Linked DNA regions of Homo sapiens. The protein of the gene in region 1 purifies or fractionates together with the protein of each later gene. This does not show direct contact. Each region holds a gene or a part of one and is shown in the gene's direction. Other genes may lie near its edges.

Region 1 (8,308 bases):
ACCATGTTGGCCAGGCTGGTCTCGAACTCCTGACCTCATGATCCGCCCACCTCGGCCTCCTAAAGTGCTGGGATTACAAGCATGAGCCACCGCACCTGGCCCATGTAACTATTTCTTATCATGTGAAAGCTTATAATATTTTTGGAGTTCTGGCTTTTATCAGTGCTAGAATACCAACTGTTTTATATTCTTTAGGATTGAGTTTATCAGGTAGAACCACTGTGCCCATGTTTGTTCCAACTTTACAAACAGTTCATGAATTCCCAGTCATTAATACATTAACCAGTGTGTTTCCCATTGCATTAGTTTTTCTCTCCATTGGTTTTTAGAAATATTATAGAACCTATAGCTTTAATGGGCTATGCTTCCCTCTGGTGTCCTAATAAAATACTTTGTGTCTCTTATAAATTGTTCCACTTGTGTGTCAGTTTTGACTTGTTTAAAAATAGTATGTCTAGTTGATTGAACAAATCAAGATTATAAGCAGAGCAGAATAAAAGGGGCTTTACTGAAATGTCTTTCCTAATTCCCAAAGCCAAATGCTCTTCCTCTCCTTGAAATTTATCCCCTTTAGAATCTGTCTTGTGTTTACTTGGCACTTGAATCAAACTTCTTTCTTCTGTGTGTGATAACATTTTCTCCTAATCCCTGCACTCCCCCCCCCGACCCCTTCCCCCATCCCCTGCTCCTAACATTTTTTATGTGGGTCGTGACTTGTCTAAGCCATTCTTTGTAATCCAGACGTAGCTCCACCTATCCTTGGTGGCTGCTACATTTAGAGCAGCCACACAGTTTGGGAAGGGAATATCAAGAGAGCCTCTTGGCTTTAAAGAGTCAGCTGATAGAATTGTAGCAGGTTTAGTGCTCCATGAGAATTGACTGACCAGCTAAGGGAGCCCTTAGACAAAGTAAATTCTAGGGTCCATCTCAAGACAGTGCTAACTCATCGCTGCCCATGCTAAAGTTGTCTTTTTGTTTTTCCTAGAAGTTTCAGGCACCTGCAAGAGAGACCTGCGTGGAATGTCAGAAGACAGTCTATCCAATGGAGCGTCTCTTGGCCAACCAGCAGGTGTTTCACATCAGCTGCTTCCGTTGCTCCTATTGCAACAACAAACTCAGGTAAGTCAGCCCAAAACAAGCCATCTGTCTATAACTGGAACTCTAGAGGGAGTCTTTGGCTTTTAGAGCACTGGTGCTAAAAGCTACTGTGCTAATGATATTCTGTTGAAGGCTCTTGAATAAAGTAAAAAGCATCATTTAGTGACAAGTCTTTCATACCAAATAATGATGGTGTTTGGAACTTCTTGGTGTATTGATATGTTAATTTACATGTTAGGACCGAAGCTTAAATAATATGAGTTGCAGGTAAACCCCCCTGTGACCTAATTTAATAGAATGTTTTCCCTTGGTATCACAGAATCACAAAGTTAAGAAATCTCAAGAGGTTACTTGTTTAAGCCCTTACTTGTCTTAACCACTGTATAAATGATAATAATGGCAATAATAATAGCCCCTGGAGAGCATGTCTTTTTCTCTATGTTGCCTCACTTTATTTCTGAGAAAATAGTTGTTACATATCATTTCTTCCAAGTAACTCAAAGTGCAAATATAAATGTGACAAATCGGGGAAACATTCCAAATTAACTCATTTTAATCATAGAGTCTTACAGAAGGAAGTAACCAAGATGTCACTTTCTCCAGCTTTCCTTTCTGAGCAATCCTTCCTAAAATACTCTTGAAAGATGTTTTGGCATCTGTGTGACATTTCTAGCTATTAGATAGCTCTAGCTAGACAGCTTCTCCAAACATGCAGCCAAAGTGTACCTCAGTCACTTCCACTCATTAGTTCTTCTGCTGCCCACTGTGTTAATTTTTTTCTCCAAAGCACCTTTTTTTTTTTTTTTTTTTTTGGATACAGAGTCTCACTCTGTTGCCCAGGGTGGAGTGCAGTGGCGTGATCTCAGCTCACTGCAACCTCTACCTCCTGAGTTCAAGCGATTCTCCTGCCTCAGCCTCCCAAGTAGCTGGGACTACAGGCGCCCGCCACCACACCCAGCTAATTTTTTGTATTTTTAGTAGAGAAGGGGTTTCACCATGTTAGCCAGGATGGTCTTGATCTCCTGACCTCGTGATCCACCCGCCTCGGCCTCCCAAAGTGCTGAGATTATAGGTGTGAGCCACTGTGCCTGGCTTAAAGCACCTTATTTCTTTTGTGGAAGTGCTGCCGTTTTATACCCCCTTTAACATTTGTCACTCTTCAGAATGGTTCGTAACTTAAGGGAAAAAACTTTAAAAAGATAAAACTTATCATCCTGCAAGAGACACCAAATCTCCTAAAGGCTTGTCTAGGACTGACATTAGGGAAAAACTACCTCCTGTCAACTCCTCACCATTCTTCTATTAATCAAGCTTATATCTAGGTGTGGATATAAGGATCACACCTGTAATCCTAGCATTTTGGGAGTGCCCAGGTAGGAGGATCACTTGATGCCAGAAGTTCAAGACTAGCCTGGGTAACATAGAGAGACCCCATCTGGTTTTTCTTTTTGAGATGGAGTCTCACTCTGTTGCCCAGGCTGGAGTGCAGTGGTGTGATCCTGGCTCACTGCAACCTTTGTCTCCCAGGTTCAAGCGATTCTCATGCCTCAGTCTCCTGAGTAGCTGGGATTACAGGCGGGCACCACCACGCCCAGCTAATTTCTTTCTTTTTTTTTTTTTTTCCGGAGATGGAGTCTTGCTCTGTCGCCCAGGCTGGAGTGCAGTGGGATGATGTCAGCTCACTGCAACCTCCACCTCCCAGGTTCAAGCAATTCTCCTGCCTCAGCCTCCCGAGTGGTTGGGACTACAGGCGTGTGCAACATGCCTGGCTAATTTTTGTATTTTTCATAGAGATGAGGTTTCACCATGTTAGCCACGCTGGTCTTGAACTCCTGACCTCAGTCAGTCTGCCCTCCTCGGCCTCCCAAAGTGCTGGGATTACAGGTGTGAGCAACCACGCCTGGCCAATTTTTGTATTTCTTAGTAGAGATGGGGTTTCACCATGTTGGTCAGGCTGGTCTCAAACTTCTGACCTCAAGTGATCTGCCCACCTCGGCCTCCCAAAGTGCTGGGACTGCACCTGGCCGGAGATCCCATCTCTATGAAAAATTTGGGGAGGCTGAGACTGAGGCTGGAGGATCACTTGAGCCCTGGAGGTCAAGGCTGCAGTGAGCTATGATCATACCATTGCACTCCAGCCTGGGTGACAGAGCAAGACCTCCACTCAAAAAAAAAAACAACAAAAAATGGCTGGGTGCAGTTGCTCATGCCTGTAATCCCAGCACTTTGGGAGGCCGAGGTGGGCAGATCACGAGGTCAGGAGATTGAGACCATCCTGGCTAACAAGGTGAAACCCCGTCTCTACTAAAAATACAAAATATTAGTCAGGTGTGGTGGCGAGTGCCTGTAGTCCCAGCTACTCGGGAGGCTGAGGCAGGAGAATGGCGTGAACCTGGGAGGCGGAGCTTGCAGTGAGCTGAGATCGTGTCACTGCACTCCAGCCTGGGTGACAGAGCGAGACTCTGTCTCAAAAAAAAACAAAAATGGCTGGGCGTGGTGGCTCACGCCTGTAATCCCAGCCCTTTGGGAGGCCGAGGCGGGCAGATCACGAGGTCAAGAGATCGAGACTATCCTGGCCAACATGGTGAAACCCCGTCTCTACTAAAAATACAAAAATTTGCCGTGCATGGTGGCACACACCTGTAGTCCCAACTACTCAGGAGGCTGAGGTAGGAGAATCGCTTGAACCCAGGAGGCAGAGGTTGCAGTGAGCTGAGATCATGCCACTGCACTCCAGCCTGGCGACAGAGCGAGACTCTAACAAAACAAAACAATACAAAAATTAGCCAGGCGTGGTGGCGCACTCCTGTAATCCCAGCTACTCAGGAGGCTGAGGCAGGAGAATTGCTTAAACTTGGGAGGCGGAGGTTGCAGTGAGCCAAGATTGTGCAACTGCACTCCAGCCTGGGCGACAGAGCGAGATTCTCTCAAAAAAAGAAAAGAAAAAGAAAAAAAAAATATATATATATATATGTATTTATATACCGTTAAGAATAGAGTTAATTCAAGCACAAAAGCTTGATGATGGCTACCCAGAAACACTGACTCCAAATGAATGGGGTCAGCATTCCAAAGTGGAGAAAGTTAGTTTCACTTACACAGAAATTTTAGCAAAGATTATGACATTTTTCATATAAGACCAGTGCATATACCACAGTGATTTGATTGGGTACAGATTGGTACATTCCAAGGAAGATTATCACTCGCAAAGAAGGGATAGTGATCTGAGGGGGTCTTATCTCTGGTGCCCTTTGGTCTTCATAATTTATAGTGAAAAGAAAGAGTTGCAGCTACATGCTGTGTGACCCAGGTTGCATAGCCACATTCCTCTCAAGGCTCAGAATGATTTAAAGTTTCTATTACTGTTGGTTTTTTTTTCTTTTTTTTTTTTTTTAAGACAGTCTCGCTCTATCACAGTGGCACAATCTCAGCTCACTGCAACCTCTGCCTCCCGGGTTCAAGTGATTCTCCCACTTCAGCTTCCCAAGTAGCTGAGACTACAGGCATGTGCCACCACACCCAGCTAATTTTTAAATTTTTTGTAGAGATGAATTCTCACTATGTTGGCCGGGCTGGTCTCAAACTCCTGGGCTCAAGCGATCCTCTCACCCTGGCCTCCCAAAGCGCTGGGATTACAGGCATGAGCCACTGCACCCAACCCGTGCTTTGTGTTATGATAAGAAAACAAATGTGCTAAAATGGGGGTAAGGAATTCCTGGTCACTGAAGGGCTTTTAAAGATCTTTTTCTTACTTGGCATCTTCTGAAAATACTGGAATTGCCAGATTTTAGCCTCCTGGTATAAGTGAGAATGTGAAGATTTGCTAAGTTTATGCTTTTTTTCTTTTAATGACAGTCTAGGAACATATGCATCTTTACATGGAAGAATCTATTGTAAGCCTCACTTCAATCAACTCTTTAAATCTAAGGGCAACTATGATGAAGGCTTTGGGCACAGACCACACAAGGATCTATGGGCAAGCAAAAATGAAAACGAAGAGATTTTGGAGAGACCAGCCCAGCTTGCAAATGCAAGGGAGACCCCTCACAGCCCAGGGGTAGAAGATGCCCCTATTGCTAAGGTGGGTGTCCTGGCTGCAAGTATGGAAGCCAAGGCCTCCTCTCAGCAGGAGAAGGAAGACAAGCCAGCTGAAACCAAGAAGCTGAGGATCGCCTGGCCACCCCCCACTGAACTTGGAAGTTCAGGAAGTGCCTTGGAGGAAGGGATCAAAATGTCAAAGCCCAAATGGCCTCCTGAAGACGAAATCAGCAAGCCCGAAGTTCCTGAGGATGTCGATCTAGATCTGAAGAAGCTAAGACGATCTTCTTCACTGAAGGAAAGAAGCCGCCCATTCACTGTAGCAGCTTCATTTCAAAGCACCTCTGTCAAGAGCCCAAAAACTGTGTCCCCACCTATCAGGAAAGGCTGGAGCATGTCAGAGCAGAGTGAAGAGTCTGTGGGTGGAAGAGTTGCAGAAAGGAAACAAGTGGAAAATGCCAAGGCTTCTAAGAAGAATGGGAATGTGGGAAAAACAACCTGGCAAAACAAAGAATCTAAAGGAGAGACAGGGAAGAGAAGTAAGGAAGGTCATAGTTTGGAGATGGAGAATGAGAATCTTGTAGAAAATGGTGCAGACTCCGATGAAGATGATAACAGCTTCCTCAAACAACAATCTCCACAAGAACCCAAGTCTCTGAATTGGTCGAGTTTTGTAGACAACACCTTTGCTGAAGAATTCACTACTCAGAATCAGAAATCCCAGGATGTGGAACTCTGGGAGGGAGAAGTGGTCAAAGAGCTCTCTGTGGAAGAACAGATAAAGAGAAATCGGTATTATGATGAGGATGAGGATGAAGAGTGACAAATTGCAATGATGCTGGGCCTTAAATTCATGTTAGTGTTAGCGAGCCACTGCCCTTTGTCAAAATGTGATGCACATAAGCAGGTATCCCAGCATGAAATGTAATTTACTTGGAAGTAACTTTGGAAAAGAATTCCTTCTTAAAATCAAAAACAAAACAAAAAAACACAAAAAACACATTCTAAATACTAGAGATAACTTTACTTAAATTCTTCATTTTAGCAGTGATGATATGCATAAGTGCTGTAAGGCTTGTAACTGGGGAAATATTCCACCTGATAATAGCCCAGATTCTACTGTATTCCCAAAAGGCAATATTAAGGTAGACAGATGATTAGTAGTATATTGTTACACACTATTTTGGAATTAGAGAACATACAGAAGGAATTTAGGGGCTTAAACATTACGACTGAATGCACTTTAGTATAAAGGGCACAGTTTGTATATTTTTAAATGAATACCAATTTAATTTTTTAGTATTTACCTGTTAAGAGATTATTTAGTCTTTAAATTTTTTAGGTTAATTTTCTTGCTGTGATATATATGAGGAATTTACTACTTTATGTCCTGCTCTCTAAACTACATCCTGAACTCGACGTCCTGAGGTATAATACAACAGAGCACTTTTTGAGGCAATTGAAAAACCAACCTACACTCTTCGGTGCTTAGAGAGATCTGCTGTCTCCCAAATAAGCTTTTGTATCTGCCAGTGAATTTACTGTACTCCAAATGATTGCTTTCTTTTCTGGTGATATCTGTGCTTCTCATAATTACTGAAAGCTGCAATATTTTAGTAATACCTTCGGGATCACTGTCCCCCATCTTCCGTGTTAGAGCAAAGTGAAGAGTTTAAAGGAGGAAGAAGAAAGAACTGTCTTACACCACTTGAGCTCAGACCTCTAAACCCTGTATTTCCCTTATGATGTCCCCTTTTTGAGACACTAATTTTTAAATACTTACTAGCTCTGAAATATATTGATTTTTATCACAGTATTCTCAGGGTGAAATTAAACCAACTATAGGCCTTTTTCTTGGGATGATTTTCTAGTCTTAAGGTTTGGGGACATTATAAACTTGAGTACATTTGTTGTACACAGTTGATATTCCAAATTGTATGGATGGGAGGGAGAGGTGTCTTAAGCTGTAGGCTTTTCTTTGTACTGCATTTATAGAGATTTAGCTTTAATATTTTTTAGAGATGTAAAACATTCTGCTTTCTTAGTCTTACCTAGTCTGAAACATTTTTATTCAATAAAGATTTTAATTAAAATTTGAACTTTTCAATGTTTCTCTTCCATTATTTTCTTACGTTATTACTGTCTCTCAGGATCTACTTTTGCAGTTTGGGAAGAAAAAAATGGTACCACTTTTTTAAGTTTTAGTTGAATAGAAGCATTATCAATACATCTCACCACTAGATGGTAGTGTTGGGCTGATCTTGGATTTCAATCCTCCCTGAAGGAAGACAAATTTTTCTGGAAAATTGCAGGCAACTTGGCAAGAGAATTAATGTGTGCATTCAAAATGAGGTATTTTACCAATTCGAAATCTAGTGGTGGTTTTTATTGTTTATAACACTCAACATTGAATAATTCACCTTACAATTATGCCTAGCATGCTGAATGGATTTCCAAATGTCTCTGCTGAAAATGGACTTGTTTTTCACTTTAGGCAGATGCTTTTTTTTTTTTTTTTTTTTTGTAGACCGAGTCTTGCTCTGTCGCCCAGGCTACAGTACAGTGGCACCATCTCGGCTCACTTCAACCTCCGCCTCCCCGGTTCAAGTGATTCTCCTGCCTCAGACCTCCTGAGTAGCTGGGATTACAGGCGCCTGACACCACGCCCGGCTAATTTTTGTATTTTCAGTAGACTCAGGGTTTCACCATGTTGGCCAGGCTGGTCTCAAACTCCTGACCTCGTGAACCACCCACCTCGGCTTTCCAAAGTGCTGGGATTACGTAAGGTGTAAGCCACCGTGCCTGGCGCTTTTTTCTTTTTTTTCTTTTCTTTTTTTTTTTTTTTTTTTTTGTTGTTGTTGCTGTTTTAAGATCAATGTTTGGCCGGGTGCAGTGGCTCACGCCTGTAATCCCAGCACTTTGGGAGGCCGAGGCGGGCGGATCACGAGGTCAGGAGATCAAGACCATCCTGGCTTACATGGTGAAACCCCATCTCTACTAAAAATACAAAAAATTAGCCGGGCGTGGTGGCGGGCGCCTGTAATCCCAGCTACCTGGGAGGCTGAGGCAGGAGAATGGCGTGAACCCGGGAGGCGGAGCTTGCAGTGAGACAAGATCGCGCCACCGCACTCCAGCCTGGGCGACAGAGCTAGACTTCGTCTCAAAAAAAAAA
Region 2 (7,654 bases), on another chromosome or scaffold:
GAGAGCCCAGAAATAGATCCACGTAAATATAATCAACTGATCTTTGACAAAGGAGCAAAGGCAATAAAATAGAGAAAAGATTATTTTCAACAAATGGTGCTGGAACAACTGGACATCCACTTGCAAAAAACTGAATCTAGAAATAGACCTTACATTCTTCACAAAAATTAACTCAAAATGAATCACAGACTTACAGCATAGAACTATAAAACTCCTAGAAGAAAACATAGACAGAAATCTAGATGACCTCAGATTTGGAGTTCACTTTTTAGCTATGATACCAAAGTCACAATTCATGAAAGAAAGAATTGATAAGCTGGACTTCATTAAAATTAAAAAATTCTGTTCTGCAAAAGACACTGTGAAAAGAATTAAAAAATAAGCCATAGACTTGGAGAAAATATTTGCAAGTGACATATCAGATAAAGGACTGTTATCCAAAATACACAAAGAACTCTTACAACTCTGTAATAAGAATACAAACAACCCAATTAAAAAATGGACCAAAGGGCTGGGGACAGTGGCTCACGCCTGCAATCCCAGCACTTTGGGAGGCCGAGGTGGGCGGATCACCTGAGGTCAGGAGTTTGAGACCAGCCTGACCAATATAGCGAAACCCCATCTCTACTACAAATACAAAAATTAGCCGGGTGTGGTGGCAGGTGCCTGTAGTCCCAGCTGCTCGGGAGGCTGAGACAGGAGAATTGCTTGAACCCGGGAGGCGGAGGTTGCAGTGAGCCGAGATCATGCCACTGCTCTCTAGCCTGGGTGACAGTGCAAGACTCCATCTCAAAAAAAAAAAAATGGACCAAACAAAGATCTTAGGAGACATCTCACTGAAGAAGATACAGATGGCAAATAAACATATGAAAAGGTGCTTTAATATATTATTTAATATAATTCTAATTTAATATTTATTCATTTAATATATATTCAAGGAAATGCAAATAAAAATGACAATGAAATACCACTCCACATCTATTAGAATGGCCAAAATTCAGAACACTGACAACATCAAATGCAGGTGAGGATATGGAGCAATATGAACTCTCATTCATTGCTGGTGGGAATGCAAAGTGGTAAGCTACATGGTGGTTTCTTATAATACTAAATATGCTCTTACCATATAATCCAGTAATCATGGTCCACAAGAACCTGCATACAGATATTTATGTCAACTTTATTCATAAACACCAAAACTTGGAAACAACCAAGATGTCATTTGGTAGGTGAATGGATAAACTGTGGTACATGCAGGTAATAGAATATTATTCAGTGCTAAAAAGAAATGAGCTATCAAGCCATGAAAAACATAGAGGAAACTGAAATGCACATAACTATGTGAAAAAAGTCAATATGAAAAGGCTACATACTGTGTGGTTCCAACTGTATGACATTCTGGAAAAGTCAAAACTATGAAGACAGTAAAAAGATCATGGTTACCAGGAATTATGGGGGAGAAAAGCATAAGTAAGTGGAGTAAAGAGGACTTTTAGGTCAGTGAAACTGCTCTGTGCAATACTGTAATGATGGACACATGTCATTGTACATTTACCCAAAACCCACAGAATGTACAACTCAGGAGTAAACCCTAATGTAAACTATGGACTCTGGGTGATAATGATGTGTCAGTATAGGTTCATCATTTATAACAAATGTACCACTCCAATAGGTGGTAATAATGGGGTTATCCAGTGTTGATAATGGGGGTGACTAAGCATGTGCAGGGACAGAACATATACAGGAAATCTCTATCTTCTACTCAATTTTGCTGTGAACCTAAAATAAACTCTATTAAAAAAAAAGTTGGCTAGAAAATTCCAAAAGAAAAAAACAAAACAAGATAAAACAAACCTAAAATAAATATTTAAATGATAGGCCTAAACTCATTGATATTAATAATTACATTAAATGTTAATGAACTAAATGCTGCAATTAAAAAAACAGATTTTAGGCCTGGCACGGTGGCTCACGCCTGTAATCCCAGCACTTTGGGAGGCCTAGGTGGGTGGATCACAAGGTCAGGAGTTCGAGACCAGCCTAGCCAACATGGTGAAACCCCATCTCTACTAAAAATACAAAAATTAGCTGGGTGTGGTGGTGGGAGCCTGTAATCCCAGCTACTCAGGAGGCTGAGGCAGGAGAATCGCTTGAAACTGGAAGGCGGAGGTTGCAGTGAGCCGAGATCATGCCACTGCACTCCAGCCTGGGCAACAAGAGCGAAACTACGTCTCAAAAAAAAAAAAAAAGAAAACCCAGATTTTATCAGAATTGATTTTTGTAAAAAGCAAGGTCCAAACATATGCTGTGTCCAAGACATATGCTTTACATATAAAAACATAGATAGAGTGAAAGTAAATAGCTAGAAAATTATATACCATGCAAACTGTAAACCTAAGAAAGTTGGGGGCCAGATGCAGTGGCTCACGGATGCAATCCTAGCACTTCTGGAGGCCAAGGTGGGAGAGTTGCTTGAGCCCAGGGTTTCAAAACCAGTCTAAACAACACAGTGAGACCCCATTTCTATAGAGAAAAAAAAAAGAGCTGGGCATAGTGCTGCATGCCTGTAGTCCCAGCTACTTGGGAGGCTGAGGAAGGAGGATCGCTTGAGCCCAGGAGTTCAAGGGTACAGTGAACTGTCATTGTGCCACTGTACTTCAGCCTGGGTGACACAGCGAGATGCTGTCTCTAAAAAATAAATGTATAAATAAAAAGAAAGCTGGTGGCCGGGCATGGTGGCTCATGCCTGTAATCCCAGCACTTTGGGAGGCCGAGGCAGGCGGATCACGAGGTCAGGAGATTGAGACCATCCTGGCTAACACGGTGAAACCCCGTCTCTACTAAAAATACAAAAAATTAGCCGGACGTGGCGGCACACGCCTGTAGTCCCAGCTACTCGGGAGGCTGAAGTGGGAGAATGGTGTGAACCCGGGAGGCAGAGCTTGCAGTGAGCGAGATGGCGCCACTGCACTCCAGCCTGGGCGACAGAGTGAGATTTCATCTCAAAACAAAAACAAAAACAAAACAAAACAAAACAAGCAAACAAAAAACTACATAGTTGAAGATTGATAGAAATAGCCAAAAATTAGTAAAAATACAGATCTAAAACATGATCAACTACCTTCAGCTAGTTAATATTTATAGAGTAATACACTCAGTAATTGCTGAATACACATTCTTTTCAAGTGAACTTAGTATGTTCATCAAGCTATTCTGGATCAAAAACTTTCAGGGATCTTTTACCATCATGCACCTTATGTTTTCTATACCATGAATCTTGGGAAAAAGAGCTAAAGGTTATCACAATTTATTACTTGCTTGAATCATGTCAGTATTTTTTGAGGGGCAATTAACTGCTATTTCTATTTATAAAAATACATAATATATTACAAATAAATTAAAATTTATTATACAATATAAATTTTTTTCAGGTGCAAATATATACAGAGCTTCATAATCAGCCCAAGACCACATAGAGCAAACATGAATGATATTTCCCAAAAGGCTGAGGTAAGTCTCAAAAGTAAAAATAAAAATAAAAGAGGGAAATGTAGAGTTGACTGTAGAATTGCTGAAAGGACAGTCATTTGGTGGAAAGGTCATATTTAGGAGTTCATAATTAATAACATAATGGCAAGATGTAAAACAAGAAGAGATACAATTCACCAGCTGGTCTTGGGCTAGTATTTTCATTTGGGTTCTAGGAAATTCTACAAAGCATGAGTAGTAAATTTGTGAATGATAGTGAAGTGGATGTGATAGCTAGCATTCTGAGTAGAATTTTAAATATTTTGTTCTTGATAACTCTTAGAAATTATTATTTTAGTATTAAAACAAAGTTTGACCTATACTCATAGGAGAAAACATAATTCCCTCTTAGGTAAGGAACCTTTTTAGTGCCTTATATATATATTTTAATTTTTAGCTTTCTTCTGGTTCTTGACTGTAGATACTGAGAGTTGTAAGAAGAGCTCAGTTGCTGACACCTCAGAATTATAAAGTTAACCCTTAAATGGCCAATGACACATAATAGATTATAAAATACAAGTTGGATGTGCCACAAATTAATTAAGTAATTGTCATTATCACTAGGAAAAAGGATTTGGTGTTCTGAGGCACACATTTTATTTACTGAAATTTCATTTAGAAATCAGCTTAATTTTCAAAGTGGTGAAAATAATTTGCTCTTCTGGTTTTAGAGTGGAGGAAAATCATTTCTTCAGTCTTCTACCAGATTCCCATTCTTTGTGAAGCTGTTGCCATATGGAATTCCTCTTACAGCCCGCCCCCATATAGAATGATATAGCCTTCTTACACATTTTTAATGTGGCTTAAAGAAGTTATAGATGGGAAGTAATAGTAACAACATAAATCACAGCTTGTGCACACAGACCACGGTGTACCTCAGCCACAAATAAGGACTAAAGGACTGGCCTTTGGTTTTGCTTATATTGGATATAGAAACCAGGAAGGGGGTAAAATGTGAATTAGGCTCAAACTTTAAAGCCTAAACTTTTGCTTTGTTTTCAACTTCACCAAATTTACTGAAATTAGTTTGGGTACTTTTTTAGCAAGTGATATCAAATCTGAATCTTTAATAATGGAGTTAGACAATAAAAGACAGTTGTTTTTAATTAGAATTCAGAATTTGATTTTTATATTTTACTGGCTTTCAGCTTCAGTGGAATGCTACCCACAAAATGAGATTTCATTACTATATAACAGTGAAATTTCTACTCTCATATTTTCTGTAATGTCATTTTTCATAGTTAGGTTTTAGAAAGTATCTAATCAGGTTGTGATGGTCAAATAAAGGGTTCAAACACATTTCTATTTTCTGTTTCAATAAATATTTTTTATATTGCTTATTCTTATCTATCTTTACCTAATTTCTTCCTATCTTTTTCGTTAACTTTCTTTTTTTTATTTTCTTCTAATGAAGATTCTGCTTTCTTCATCTAAACCTGTCCCAAAAACCTATGTACCAAAACTTGGCAAGGGTGATGTAAAGGATAAGTTTGAAGCCATGCAGAGAGCCAGGGAAGAAAGAAATCAAAGGAGATCTAGAGACGAAAAACAAAGAAGAAAAGAACAATATATTAGAGAGAGAGAATGGAACAGGAGAAAGCAGGAGGTTATTTTATTTTACTTTATTCTCGTGAAAATATTTGTTTGCATTTTTTCATTTAAATTGTATTTATTCACATTAACCACATTTCACATTAACTATAACTAAAATACTTTTCTGTATTTGTAACCTAATTTAAACTCTGCATATAATGTGATTTAGTCTAATTTTTGGACATGTGCTCACATTAATTTATTTAACCATCTAGATTAAAGAAATGCTTGCTTCTGATGATGAGGAAGATGTATCTTCTAAAGTAGAAAAGGCTTATGTTCCAAAATTAACAGGTAAGAAGCTTGAGGGGTAAATAGTAAATTAAATTGCAAAATAGAAACATAACCAAGTATCAAACTTTTTTTTCATATATTTTTAGGAACTGTGAAGGGTAGATTTGCTGAAATGGAGAAACAAAGACAAGAGGAACAAAGGAAGAGAACGGAGGAGGAACGAAAACGCAGAATTGAGCAGGATATGTTAGAAAAGAGGAAAATACAGCGTGAATTAGCAAAAAGGGCTGAACAGGTATCACTGAAGATTAAGTTCGTATTTGTTTCTGAAACTAACTGTGCAAAGTAAAACTAATCAGTATGTTGCCTAATTAAAATATTTTAATGTAACATAAACCTATTAAAAAGCAGCTAACCGTCTGGGAATGGTGGCTCACCTCTGTAATCTCAGCACTTTGGGAGGCCAAGCTGGGTGGATCGCTTCGACATCAGCCCGGGCAACATGGCAAAATCCTGTCTCTACAAAAAAATACAAAAATTAGCTGGGCATGGTGGCAAGTGCCTGTAGTCCCAGCTATTCAGAAGGCTGAGGTAGGAGGTTCGCTTGAGCCTGAAAGGTGGAAGTTGCAGTGAGCCAAGATCATGCCACTGGACTCCAGCCTGGGTGACAGGGCAAGACCTATCTCAAAGAAAAAAAAAAAAAAAAAAGGCAGCTAACCTGAAAAGATCTGCAGGAAAAATATTTAACATCAGATGCCTAGAAGGACATGGGCAGAATATGCCTATTTTAAGGTAGAATAGTGAGATGATTTGTATCATATACAATCTTACCGCTCTATCCACATTCCTCACCCCGTCTACATTCCTTATTTTTCTTTACAAGTTAGAGAATTTTACAAAGATGTAAGGCAATTTCACATATAAACTATCCATGAGTACCTAACAAAGTGCTGGTCTTCTAATAACAATACTTTTAAATGCTGGTATATTAGTCTGTTTTCATGCTGCTGATAAAGACATACACAAGACTGGGAAAGAAAAGAGGTTTAATTGGACTTACAGTTCCACTTGGCTGAGGAGTCCTCAGAATCATGGCGGGAGGTGAAAGGTACTTCTTACGTAGCGGTGGCAAGAGAAAATGAGGAAGATGCAAAAGCGGAAACCTCTGATAAAACCATCAGATCTCATGAGACTTATTCACTACCATGAGAACAGGATGGGGGAAACCACCCCCATCCCCATGATTCAAATTATCTCCCACCAGGTCCCTCCCACAACACGTGGGAATTATGGGAGTACAATTCAAGATGAGATTTGGGTGGGGACACAGAGCCAAACCATATCAGCTGGTCTTTTAAGGCATACATTAAGTGCTTTCAGTCTTTTTGCTATGCTGCCTTCAGTTTCCATTACCTTTCTGAAAAGAAAAGTGACGATGAAAGCAAAGCATATGCTATACTTGCATACTAAAGAAATGTATTTACCCTGGATTTGCAAAGTGGGGTACAGGTATTGGGTAAATACAGCAGTTCCAAATGGGAGAAATCATCCAAAACAAAGGGGTTACATGGCCCATGCAAGTCTGAAATCCAGCAGGTCAGTCATTTTTTTTTTTTTTTTTTGAGACGGAGTTTTGCTCTTGTCGCCCAGGCTGGAGTGCAATGGCGCAGTCCTGGCTCGGTGCAATCTTGGCTCACTGCAACCTCCACCACCCAGGTTGAAGCGATTCTCCTGTCTCAACCTCCTGAGTAGCAGGGATTACAGGTGCCTGCCACCACGTCTGGCTAATTTTTGTATTTTTAGTGGAGACGGGGTTTCGCCATGTTGGCCAGGTTGGTCTTGAATTCCTGACCTCAGGTGATCTACCTGCCTTGGCATCCCAAAGTGCTGGGATTACAGGCGTGAGTCACCGCACTGGCCTCTTTTTTTTTTTTTAATTGAGACGGAGTCTCGCTCTGTCACCCAGGCTGGAGTGCAGTGGCAAAATCTCGGCTCACTGCAACCTCTGCCTCCCGGATTCAAGCGATTATCCTGCTTCAGTCTCCCGAGTAGCTAGGACTAAGGCACATGCCACCACTCCCAGCTAATTTTTTTGTATTTTTAGTAGAGATAGGGTTTCACCATGTTGGCCAGGCTGGTCTTGAACTTCTGATCTCAGATGATCTGCCCACCTCGGCCTCCCAAAATGATTACAGGCATGAGCCACCGCACCCGGCCTAGTAATTTTATCTTGTAAATATGTAAAGTTTAATTTTCAAATCTAATTAAGTACATTTTCCACTGTACTCCAATATAATTT

What was found. The genes of interacting proteins can lie anywhere in the genome.
Region 2: the proteins of LIMA1 (region 1) and NEXN purify together in Homo sapiens (affinity purification with mass spectrometry; 2 studies listed by BioGRID and IntAct, with this or other methods). This does not show direct contact.

Annotation. Positions count from the first base shown.
Region 1 is NC_000012.12:50,174,715-50,183,022, reverse strand, and holds the end of LIMA1 (LIM domain and actin-binding protein 1), read left to right. Parts: intron 1-985; coding exon 986-1,119; intron 1,120-4,953; coding exon 4,954-5,959; 3' UTR 5,960-7,235; downstream 7,236-8,308. UniProt on the Homo sapiens protein: Actin-binding protein involved in actin cytoskeleton regulation and dynamics. Increases the number and size of actin stress fibers and inhibits membrane ruffling. Inhibits actin filament depolymerization.
Region 2 is NC_000001.11:77,912,624-77,920,277, forward strand, and holds part of NEXN (nexilin), read left to right. Parts: intron 1-3,431; 5' UTR 3,432-3,483; coding exon 3,484-3,510; intron 3,511-4,942; coding exon 4,943-5,134; intron 5,135-5,336; coding exon 5,337-5,415; intron 5,416-5,501; coding exon 5,502-5,650; intron 5,651-7,654. UniProt on the Homo sapiens protein: Involved in regulating cell migration through association with the actin cytoskeleton. Has an essential role in the maintenance of Z line and sarcomere integrity.